2 separate regions of the Homo sapiens genome follow, and region 2 is linked to region 1. Evidence: fine-mapped expression QTL. Tissue or cell type: whole blood. Region 1 holds a variant in brackets; the other region holds the start of a gene. All regions are shown on one strand. Distances are between the middles of the regions.

The links. PIP is the estimated chance that this variant, and not a neighbour inherited with it, causes the effect. A credible set is the group of variants that fine-mapping cannot tell apart.
Region 2: IMPA1 starts here. The variant in region 1 is the best candidate, but not a certain one, in a credible set for the expression of IMPA1 in whole blood (INTERVAL, PIP 0.82).

The regions. Positions count from the first base shown.
Region 1 is chr8:81,609,563-81,612,255 of GRCh38, reverse strand. It overlaps the pseudogene IMPA1P1. Among named protein-coding and RNA genes, the nearest start is that of IMPA1, 75 kb to the left of the region's middle. The variant T/C (reference allele first, on the strand shown) is at 1,165.
Region 2 is chr8:81,684,805-81,687,497 of GRCh38, reverse strand. IMPA1 (inositol monophosphatase 1) reads left to right here and starts at 1,173. Exons shown (of 9, transcript NM_005536.4): 1 at 1,173-1,246. RefSeq lists an enhancer at 927-1,427.

The DNA.
Region 1 (2,693 bases):
CAACATGAACTTTGAAGGAGACAAACACTCAAACCACAGCATTCACCCCTGACCCCCAGAACTCATGTCTTTCTCACATACAAATTCATACATTTCATTACCATTATCCTAAAGTCTTAACTAACAGTTTTACAAGAATATCTTAGAATTGCTTATTCTGCATAAATTTTCTATTTAATATGTAGATACATATCTTCTTTACTTATGGAAAATTTCCTTGAGATATAATTTTAAATATTATTGCACTTCGGTTATCATTTTCTTCTTCAGAGACACCAATATGAATATTCCATCTCCTTGTGTCTTCCATTTCAGCTGCTTTCTCTCAGTCTCTTTTTCTTTTATTGCTTTTCCTGATTTTCTTTAAGTTTTCTTTTGCATCTGTGCCCTTTTGGGCACCTTGTAATTTATTCTTCATTTTGTCCCCATTTCTTTCCTGAGTTCACTTATCCTGTTTTTTTTTAAAAAAATTTTGTTTCATTTCTGCTTTCAGTCTCTATTTCAGATTTAACAATTTTTTTTCATATTCACAACCACAAGTATTTGAGGCCATTTAACTCAGATTGTATTGATGTTTCAGTTTTCTTCTGCTTCATTATTGTTTTTTATTTTAAAAGACAGAATGTTGTTATTTTCTTTTGTTGTGTTACAGCAGCAATTTAAAAAAAATTTAAGTTACGGGATACATTTGCTGAATGTTCAGGTTTGTTAACATAGGTATACATGTGCCATGGTGATTTCCTGCACCTGTCATCTAGGTTTTAAGCCCCGCATGCATTAGGTGTTTGTCCTAATGCTCTCCCTCCCCTTATCCCCCACTCCCTGACAGGCCCCAGTGTGTGATATTCCCCTCCCTTGTCCATGTGTTCTCACTGTTCACAATGTTGGTTTTCTGGAGAGACTTCAAACAAAAAGAAACCCATTTTTATTAGCAATGTCTGATGTTTTGCAGGCTTGTGGGGATGTGCTCTACTTTTTTCTATTTTGATTCATTTTGTTATCAGGGCTCCTTGGTTCAGAGCTCTGTATTTTGTCAGTTCTGCCCTTCTGTGTAGTTTCCTTTATGATATCTTTTGAGTGGTTGTGGTAGGCAGGGTTGGCTTGTCTTGCTTATCATTGATTTCTGCAGGATCCTTAATTTTTCAATCTTAGTCCCAACTTTTC[T/C]TTGAATACTTGGTCTCCAAGAGGTACCACCTCTTCTGTCTTATCTGATTCTCCTCCAAAATCACAGTTTCCCCGAGGTAGCTGGACTGTGAATTACCAAGGGCTGATCTGTGCTCAGTGTCTTTGCATTTATTGTCTCACTTATACTCGTTTCTGAGGGTGGTTTTTTCTGTGTTCCCTGTGGGTCCTTGGCTCCTCCCTGCTCTCCCTCACAAAGTCTTTTCTGCCTCTTCTCCTCCACTCCGTGTATCCACAGGCTAGGAATGCTGTGTTAGAATTAGTTTGTTTGCTCTTTCTTCTGCTTACAGGTAGTTTGAGATTTGTATTTTCCGATTCCTAGAAATGCTGAAGGAATAGGTCTTGTGTGTTTTATTTGTCCTCCTTTTTGATTTTATTTAATTTTATTTTTCAGGTGGGTAATGGGGAGTTTCAAAATCAGCATGCCACTATTCCTTTCTAAACCTCAGAGTCCTTCTGTAATCAGTTTCATAAATGAAGAAATTAAAAGCAAATATCTATCCTTACTTTTATGTTTACATTTTCAAGAAAAGCTAGAGTTTTGAAGTCTTTAATATAGTTATGCTATATTAAATAGAATTTCTGACCTTTATTGTAGTTGTTTGCATTAAAAATCATAAATTTTGTTATTCAACAAAATCTGTTAAGTTTTGAATAACAGATATTTTACTGCCTACTGTTTCTACCTTTTTTCCTTTTGAAAATATCATCACTGAGTTATAAGAGTCTTAAACCTGATCAAAGATCATCTAATAATCCAGCCTTTTTTTGTAGGTGAGTCGACTGAGGCTCAGAGAGGTGATGTGGTTGCCTTAGATCGAACAGCTGGGTGGAAATATGACTAGAATCCTGGCTCCCAGATCATTTATCTTTCTCCAATATTGGACTTCTCTTAGGAGTCGGGACCTTAAAAATATAGTTTGGCCATGTACAAACTAATTTTATACTATACATCTTTGTTCTATATAGTAATGAGTAAAGCAAAAGAGAGAGAGCCTCTGTCAAATAGCTACAGAACCTCCCAGAATGATGTCCTTGAGGGAAGGGCAATAAACTTATTGCTACAGTGTGCTGTCTTGAAGCAAGGACTGTAACCATGGGCTATAAAATGGTTATGTTAGTCATAAAAGAGCTGCAAGAGGTTTACAATTTTAACCTTTAATTTTGCTGTTGGATAAAGTAAAAACTAATTTTTACTTCAGGATTTTTTCAGAAGTGTAACCAGGGAAATATTACCAAGGAGAAGTTCTGACATTGATTTAAGATCTTTTGCATTCAGCTGCTTCTTTAGTTTAGCAATGTGATTTCAGAGTTACTTATACAAAACAATGAAACTAAAGGGAGTCATAATCTGAATGAATGCTTTAAACAAGCAGAAACAGTCTAATAGGTTCCTGACTAGGAACAAATATTTTTAAGACAACAATTATTGTGGCTCAATTTCCTTTAATTTTTCAAAATTTAATTAGATGAAATGTACCTGGTATATATTTTCTGGCATCATCTTTTGA
Region 2 (2,693 bases), 75 kb before region 1:
GTAGTATTTTTATGTTTTATGGCTGGCTTTATAAAAAAGGGGTCCTGATTTCTGGGACCTGATTTGGGAAAGAGGAATTCTAGCTTCTATGACTAGTCTGGGGAAGAATGTGGGACCAGAGACAGGAGACCAAAAGGAGTCAGAGGAAAATTTTTCCTTCTAAGGCTGCTTCTGAGGCCTTCATTGTGGGGTATCATTTTCTGAACCCCAAAACTTTGAACTCAGTGTGTTTCACTCTCTGCTCTTGCTGTGTGACCTGAGGACAAATCACTTAACTACTCTGAGCCTCAGTTTCCTCATCTGTCTGACAAAGCTAATCATACCTTTTTCAAGAAACTGTTAAAACTTTAAGGAAAATAATGCATATAAAAACACATTTCGGCCAGGCGTGGTGGCTCATGCCTGTAATCTTTGGGAGGCCGAGGTAGGCGGATCACTTGAGTCCAGGAGTTTGAGACCAGCCTGAGCAACATGGTGAAACCCCGTCTCTACAAGATACAAAAATTAGCCGGGCGTTGTGGCAGGCGTCTGTAATCCCAGCTACTCAGGAGGCTGAGGCATGAGAATCGCTTGAATCCAAGAGGCGGACGTTGCAGTGAGCCGAGATCGCGCCATTGCACTTCAGCCCGGGCGACAAAAGTGAAATTCCGTCTCAAAAAAACAAAACAATAAAACCCCACACAATTGCTTGAAGCATAGTAAGTCCTCAATAAATAGTATGTAAGTAAATTATCAAGAATTGGGCAGTTGGTTCTGGTTATCAGTTTATTTTTTTTTAATCTAGTATAGGTTTACCAGCTTTAGGTTAGCACCTAAAAGCTGCATAATCGGAATCATATCTGCAATCTGGGTTTTGTCAAAATAGTACTATAGAATAAATGGGAGAAAGAAGAAAGCAAGCTAAATGGGAAACCGTGAATGAATGGAGGACGAAAGAAGAAAAAGGCAAAGTAAAGAGAGAAGTAATGTTTAAAAACTGAGAGATGAAAAGACAAGCAGGAGAAAAGAACCAGAAGCTAGAATGAAGAGGCAGTATCCCATGCTCCAGCGCGGGTCAGGACCCGGCCCGGCCTGGCAGAGGCTCGCAGGGCGCAGCTCGGGGCGGGGCCCAGCAAAGCAACCACGCCCCCTCAGGAATGGAGTTTTTAAGGGCGGAACTTCCTGTTGCGAGTAGCCCCTCTACCTCCGGAAGAGACGAGTGCGGTAACACCGTTCACAGAGCTAGCCGGACGTCCTCCGACTCAAGGTGAGACCGTTATTTTCCTCACCGCACCCTCCGGGTTCAGCGGGCGCTGTGGGTTTCCAGGGAGGCCCCTTCCCTCCTCAGGAGCGGGCGCGAGCGCCGTGCGCGGTCGGCGCCTAGGGTGGAGGCAGCCTCTGGGTGACCCCTGCCTGCTGCGTTATCCGGAGCTGCCCTGGGCGACCGGGAACAGTTCCGGCATTGGAGTAGCGGTTCGCTCACGCGACCTCACTTAACCTCTGTGGCGGCTTCTGTGGAATAATTGCCCCTTTTTATGTCCCCAACTCCGAAAAGCTCCTAGAAACTTGGTGCATCCCCAGGCCCAGGTAGTCACTCTAAGTGATGGGGCAGCGCCCAGGTCCTGTGCTGCCCGCAGTCGCGGTGCTGGGACAGGTGGCAAAAAGGAAGGTGGCCTGGCTCCTACGCTGGAAGGCTGTGACCAGGACAGAAACAGCAGGAAACAGTTCAGGTGTTTATGGCTTTGGGAAAATGAAAGTGAGTAAACTACGGACCCTGCCCATCAATAAATGTACTGTGATTTATATATATATAACTATTCATATATTATATATAACTATATATAAAAATATATATAAAATGTACTTATATACTTTATATATAGTACATAAATATACTTATGTATAGTATATATACTTATATATAGTACATAAATATACTTCTGTATACTTATATATAGTACATAAATATACTTACGTATATATACTTATATATAGTACAGAAATATACTTACGTATATATACTTATATATAGTACAGAAATATACTTAGGTATATATACTTATATATAGTACAGAAATATACTTAGGTATACATACTTATATATAGTACCTAAATATACTTAGGTATATATACTTATATATAGTACATAAATATACTTACATATATACTTACATATAGTATATAAATATACTATATGTATAGTACATAAATATACTATGTATAGTATATATACTATATATACTATATATAGTATCTATACTTATGTATAGTATATATAGTATCTAAATATACTTATGTATAGTATATATAGTATCTAAATATACTTATGTATAGTATATATAGTATCTAAATATACTTATGTATAGTATATATACTATATATAGTATCTAAATATACTTAATGTATACTATATATAGTATCTAAATATACTTATTTATAGTATATATATCTAAATATACTTATGTATAGTATATATACTATATATAGTATCTAAATATACTTACGTATAGTATATATAGTATCTAAATATACTTATGTATAGTATATATACTATACATAGTATCTAAATATACTTATGTATAGTATATATACTATACATAGTATCTAAATATACTTATGTATAGTATATATACTATACATAGTATCTAAATATACTTATGTATAGTATATATACTACACATAGATACTATGTATAGTATATATACTCCACATAG